Regions from separate parts of the Homo sapiens genome. Here region 1 is reported to be linked to region 2. Evidence: microRNA targets listed by miRTarBase, many of them from high-throughput screens and not tested one by one. Region 2 holds a microRNA gene; the other region holds the end of a gene's coding sequence.

Region 1 (3,417 bases), not on the chromosome of region 2:
ACTGATCCTCCTGCTTCAGTCTCCTGAGTGGCTGAGACTACAGGCATGCACCACCACACCTAGCTAATTTTAATTTTTTTGGTAGAGACAGGGTTTTCCTATGTTGCCCAGGCTGGTCTCGAGCTCCTGGGCTCAAGCAATCCCCCTGCCTCGGCCTCCCAAGGTGCTGGGATTATAGGTGTGAACCACCATGCCAGGCTTGCATCAGTGTTTTTTTTTTTTTTTTTGTAGAGACGGAGTCTTGCTCTGTCACCCAGGCTGGAGTGCTGGAGTGCAGTGGTGCGATCTTGGCTCACTGCACCCTCCGCATCCTAAGTTCAAGCAATTCTCCTGCCTCAGCCTCCCGAGTAGCTGGGACTACAGGCGCACACTACCATGCCTGGCTAACTTCTTTTGTATTTTAGTAGAGACAGGGTTTCACCATGTTGCCTAGGCTGGTCTTGAACTCCTGAGCTCAGGCAATCCTCCTGCCTCAGCCTCCCAAAGTGCTAGGATTACAGGCGTGAGCCACCGCGCCCGGCTGCATCAGTTTTTTCAAAAGTTCATCAGGGTGAAAAGGATACGTAGCCCAGTCTTGTGAATCTTCTCATTCACTGGTTCAACAAATACTGCACTACCAACCACATAATTAGTACAAAGCCAGGCAACAAATACTTGAATTCTTGATAAAAAAAGAAAATAAAAACATGCTTCAATTTTTCTCCAGAGAATGAGGCAGGGGACAATAAAAACCAATCTATATCACCTAACCTAGTAGGCACTAAGAGGCTGATCTCATTTGCTTTGAGGACAAGGCTGCTTCTCACCCCTTCCGCATCTGTTTTCCTCTTGATGAGCCCCTAAAGAGATGCAGCAGAGTTGGGAGGTGGCTCAGGGAAGACAGCAGAGTGGAAAGGTCAAGCTCAAAGGTAAAGGGAGGGGATAGAAGCAGATTACCTGTCGACCGTCTTCTTAAGTCCCATGGCCTTTTGAAAACTCTGCAAGAAAAGGTAGTTCTGTTGATCTGCCTCAGTCTCCAGAACCTCTATTCTAATGAGAGACATAGACCTTTTTTTTTTTTGAGACAGAGTTTTGCTCTTGTTGCCCAGGCCAGAGTGCAGTGGCGTGATCTCGGCTCACCGCAATCTCCGCCTCCCGGGTTCAAGCGATTCTCCTGCCTCAGCCTCCGAGTAGCTGAGATTATAGGAATGCACCACCATGCCGGGCTAATTTTGTATTTTTAGTAGAGATGGGGTTTCTCCATGTTGGTCAGGCTAGTCTCGAACTCCTGACCTCAGGTGATCCGCCCACCTCAGCCTCCCAAAGTGATAGGATTACAGGCGTGAGTCACCGCACCCAGCCACATAGACCTTTTTGAGAAAGCAATTTCCTGGGGGGAAATAGGGAGAGGAAAGCTCTACTTTCAGAATGGATCAAAGAAAACACGCAGGGGTTGGATAGAACACATATTTGAATACCTACTGTGTACTAGACACAGCCTCCCACTCCTGTTACTAACTACATTATACCCTTGTTACATCAAAAGCCTTTCCCAGTAAAAGATGCACTTATAGTAAATTGATCTGGAAACTTCATCAAACTTCAACCCAGCCCCTCCTTCCAACTCTGCATACCTCTTCTACTTTTGTCATCTTTTCCACAGACATGTCTATAGATTTGCTTGATACAGTCTGAGGAGACTGACAGGCTCCTCTGTTTAGTTCAGTAACCAAGGTTTCAGTAGTCATAGTAACATTTACACCTCCAACAATAACCCTGGGCCTAGGAGTTGATTGGCCACCTGGCCTGTTGCCCCAGAAACCTTGAGAGAATCCTTGTTCTGCAGCCTTCTGTTGGTGACACAGGCATCTATGAGCAAGGGCCACAGTCCTGATTTTAGGATTTCTTGTGCTAGGGTCCCAAGGAGTATGTGTATGGTCGTAGGTCCAGGGTATGCACACAGTCCCACCAATTCTCTGGAGGCAAATCCTCATGCCCTATACCCTGTTAGAAATGTGCAGATAACATTATCAAATGCCTGTTTTATTAAAAGACAACTATAAAGGACTGATTCATACGTTTTATTTGATAATAGTTCATTTTATTAAATAATTTATAAAGTCAGACCAGTGCATTGGGCTTGTTAGGGGAAACCATTCCTTCCTACTGTCACATAGCCTGGCAGATTATATCAGGTGCCAAAACATTCCCTTTTATTCAATTTATTAATGAGAGTGTGGAATTAAAGTAGATCCTTGCATGTCAGGAAAGCTGCAACACATCTGGTTTAAGTGGAGCACAAAGGTAAGTTATTCCACATTCACCAACTTCCCCACTTGACCTCCCACCAGTTCCTGTCTGCTTTTTCCATCAATCAACTCTAAGATGCCCTAAACCCAAACAGTTCCCATTCAACTGTGCACAAAGGTATAGATATGGAAGACATCTCACTCCAACTCTCACCTTTGGAATTAAATAAACCTGGAACAGGGAAGGTGAACTATGGCTGAAACCAAGTGAAGATTTTTAAGAAGCTTTGACAGAAACATTAAGAATAACACCTGAATGCAAATCCAGAAAAAAGCGCTACTGGGGGAAAATAGTCTTAGCCAATGTTCTAAAAATGCTCATAAGGAAGGGTTGGGGAATTACCCTTTAGACACAAGCTCTAAGAACTCTGGATACAACGGGAACTTGGATGGATACAGTCTGGGCCTGCTGGGCCAGATGTTCCGAGGGCGGCCCGGCAAGCAGCCTGTCTTGCACATTGCAACTGACTGGCTTAATCTACGGCAAGAGTCCTTCAGCTCCGTCACAGAGTACTCTCCAATGTGTTATAGTTATCCTTAAAGCTCTTCAATTCAAGGAAGTGCTTGGCACGTTTACTCTTCTGACTGGAGGGGAGGTATGTCACCTGGATGGTTGTTGGGGAGACCTCAGGGGACTGAGTTAGGTCTTTGGCTGCTGACTGGTGATGTCGCTGAGAGCTCCCAATTCGTGCTTTAACCCTGAAGAACAGAGAGGGGAGGTCATTGACAGAATGAGGACTAATCAAAGAAATCAGGGCTTATCCCAGGCCATAAATGCAGCAATAGTCACAAATAGTTATTTGTGTCCTATCTGTCCTATTTTGTAAACTAGTTACTAAAACCCCATCTAGTAGCTTAGAAATACAAGAGGCTGAGCGCGGTGGCTCACGCCTGTAATCCCAGCACTTTGGGAGGCCCAGGCAGGTGGATTGTTTGAGGTCAGGAGTTCGAGACCAGCCTGGCCAACATGGTGAAACCCTGTCTCTACTAAAAATACAAAAATTAGCTGGGAGTGGTGGCGGGTGCCTGTAATCCCAGCTACTCGGGAGGCTGAGGCAAGAGAATCACTTGAACCCAGGAGGCAGAGGTTGCAAGCCAAGATTGCGCCACTGCACTTCAGCCTGGGTGA
Region 2 (3,417 bases):
AAAATATTCATAGTCAGTACCGTTTACTAATTTTTTAAAAAAATAAGTGAATTTTAAGTGTTAAGAAATTTCTACTAGCTTTCCACATAGATCTGTTGACATTTTTTAAGTGTATTTTTTTTTCAGAAATACATAATCTTGTAGGTTTAAGCCTGTAAATATACAGAGGCACTTTTAAAAGTGTTAAATCAGAGATATGAACAACTGAAAACTAACCAATAGGAGCTGGAAATAGAGTTGTAAGCAAATGGTTGGGAATCTGTCTTTTCAAATATACTGCATGAGAAATATAAATCAGTCTTTGTTTTATTCTGCCAGTCATATTAGAATATTCTACACCCTCAATCTATAAAGCACTCAAAACTTTGAAAACTTCTGACTAAACAAGGAGAAGTAGGAAGAGGAAAAGAAAAAAGCATATGGAATTGCTTGACAATGTGCTGAAATATTAAGCTGCAGACATCTCTGACTAAGTGTATGTGTAAAATAAAGACCAAATTTGAAAGTAGATTATTTATTTTGAAAATGAGCTCAATTATTTCAGGGTCTAGAAGCAAACACAACGTAAACCTCTACTCATCGTGTATGTGTGTCGGTATGTGTTAGTGTTTAATTACCACTGTGGCAAAATAAGAGCATGATCCAAATTCTGTGCCTCATCCCAGAACTTTCAGAGATTATTGACACCTTACAGAGTCATTGTAAAGGATCAGGTGCAGGAAGGAAAATTAAAATGCAAACTCACACTGACGTGCAGAGTGAGTAACCAGTCTTAGAAAACCTGAAAAGCCATGACATTGAGCAAGGCAAACTGGGTTTTAAACAGGCAATGGGAAGGCTTCGTTTTTTGCAATTGAAAAAAAAGCAAAATTCGCTAAGGGAGAGTGAGTGTAAACCTAAAAGAAAGGAAGCTTAATTGAGACCTACAAGATGGTGGGTATGTCTTTTTTCCCTGAGGAGCTATGAAACTTTTCAGGGACAGAAATAATAAGAAAATAGATCTGCATCCATTGTGGTTCAGGGTAACTGACTGGGCTCTTTGCCTAACTACTAGGCAACTTTGCTTAATGTAGAAAGAAATGACTCAGGTTAAACAGAATGCTTCGCTGATTTTTCCAAACAAACCTACTTAAAGAATTTCAGAAACAGGGAGTTTCCTCTCAGATGAGCTAGTGAAAACCTACTCATGCCCCAAACAATGTAGTAAACACAAATTGAGAGCGAGCAACAAAATAGCCCGAGAGTTCAATATAATGTGGAAATTCATAATTTAGAAACAAAGTCTGTCATTTTTAATACCTTCAAACAGGAATTTAACAATGTCTGTCACTGTCCATCTTTGAAATGCAGAGGTATGAGATGTTATATAACCAAGATCTTTAGGTTAGCAAGCATATAGATCAAATATGTTGTAAATGGAATCCTTGTACAATTTTAAACCTTCTTAAAGTGATAATTTGTAATATGTTTTTGACCATTATGTAATACGTTTATTTATTTATTTATTTATTATTTTTTTCTTTTATTATTATACTTTAAGTTTTAGGGTACATGTGCACATTGTGCAGGTTAGTTACATATGTATACATGTGACATGCTGGTGCACTGCACCCACTAGCTCGTCATCTAGCATTAGGTATATCTCCCAATGCTATCCCTCCCCCCTCCCCCCACCCCACCACAGTCCCCAGAGTGTGATATTCCCCTTCCTGTGTCCATGTGTTCTCATTGTTCAATTCCCACCTATGAGTGAGAACATGCAGTGTTTGGTTTTTTGTTCTTGTGATAGTTTACTGAGAATGATGATTTCCAATTTCATCCATGTCCCTACAAAGGACATGAACTCATCATTTTTTATGGCTGCATAGTATTCCATGGTGTATATGTGCCACATTTTCTTAATCCAGTCTATCATTGTTGGACATTTGGATTGGTTCCAAGTCTGTTATTGTGAATAATGCCGCAATAAACATACATGTGCATGTGTCTTGTAATACTTTTGTAGGTTTCAGTAATATTCTACAAGAAGAATGGATAACCTTAATGATCTCGAATATTTCTGGTTTTACTTTTGCTTGAGCAGTTTCATAAATGAATATTTTACTTGGCACATTATTTTTATTATTAAAAGAAAAAGGGCTTCTCCTATTACAAAAAGTAGTTCTATAAATATTTTGATCAAATTTTTAAACTATGTGACAAAACAATGTGAAATAAATATTTCAAATGCCATTTATTGATGAGTAAATTGTAAATATTGCTAAATTCCATTTACAAATTCTTGGAGGAACTTGGTTTTTAAAGGAAAACATCATGATCAATGTATGGATGTGCTCATTAGGAGACTCTTGGCCTTTTTCAGAAGGTTATACTCTGCCATAGTATAAAGAATCCTGGTGTGTTCGGGTGATATTTTCAATCTAAAATCTAGGAGGCAGGTGCTCACTTGTCCTCCTCCATGCTTGGAAAATGCAGGGAGGAGGCCATAGTGGCAACTGTTACCATGATTAATTTCGTTGGGATAGAAGATGGACCCGCTGGTTGTAATCAATGCATTGAGGACTCTCAGATCAGTGGGACTGTGAAATTTTAAACTCCTCAAGGTAGAACACAGTGGTAATGTTTTGAAATTTAAAGATTTTGAAATGCAAGCTACTTTTCTCAGGCCATTTCTTCTAAACAACACAACATAATGTTTAAGCCATGTGTTGTTCACAGATTATAATGTTGCAGTGATAAAATATATACTCCATTGGCAAAAATAAACAGCGGTAAAGGGACTGAGATTCTTGATTTTTAACTTTGTATTTAACCTTGTGTAATGCTGCCTGGAAAATTTTTGTAAAAGTATGAATAGATGTAAGAAGATTAATATATTATTACTGTATTTTACAATCTTTCTGTCCTTGAGTTTGAAGTATATTACAGGTTAAGGTTAAGCCAGGAAGTAAGATTGCTTTATAGAACTTTATAACTTTCAAAATTGACATTTGAAGAAATTGTGCTATACTATAATAGTGAAATAATAGTAATTACAAAGTAAATATAATCATCATTGAAATATAAATTTTCATACATTTTTTGTTCGACACATATTTATATAATACTTAATATATGAAAGGTATTTTCCATTCATAATCTATTTATCTTTAATGATAATCATTTTAGCAGTCTAATACTGGAAGTAGTATTTTCTTCAATTGACTGATGATAACGAATCCTCGAACCATAAAAAGTAGAATTGGATATTGTCAGTCTCTACATCTCTACTTAAATGTATTTTACATTCACTTTAAATGAAAACAATGAAACACATATATCTTTAAGAGTGATTAATGATTAGAAATAAGGGAGGCTTCTTATATGACACGGAATGCTAGTTAGAATAAAGTACACGGCTGGGCCATTGGGAAGTTG

What was found. Region 2 holds the annotated microRNA hsa-miR-764 (GCAGGUGCUCACUUGUCCUCCU, at 2,435-2,456, shown strand). A microRNA usually pairs through its seed, bases 2 to 8, with sites in the 3' UTR of a target mRNA and lowers its output. Matches are read on the target gene's strand: a 7mer-m8 pairs with bases 2 to 8, a 7mer-A1 pairs with bases 2 to 7 and ends in A, and an 8mer does both.
Region 1: miRTarBase lists LTAP1 as a target of hsa-miR-764. Seed matches in the 3' UTR shown: 8mer at 2,171-2,178.

The regions. Positions count from the first base shown.
Region 1 is chr1:154,204,662-154,208,078 of GRCh38, forward strand. LTAP1 (lipid transport auxiliary protein 1) reads right to left here. Exons shown (of 7, transcript NM_001098616.3): 7 at 2,059-2,987. The coding sequence ends at 2,792. It overlaps CFAP141 (cilia and flagella associated protein 141), which reads right to left and starts at 1,672. Exons shown (of 4, transcript NM_001010979.3): 1 at 1,614-1,672; 2 at 937-977. The coding sequence starts at 1,646.
Region 2 is chrX:114,637,011-114,640,427 of GRCh38, forward strand. It overlaps MIR764 (microRNA 764), which reads left to right and starts at 2,425; the gene lies at 2,425-2,509. The region is part of intron 2 of HTR2C (5-hydroxytryptamine receptor 2C); the gene reads left to right.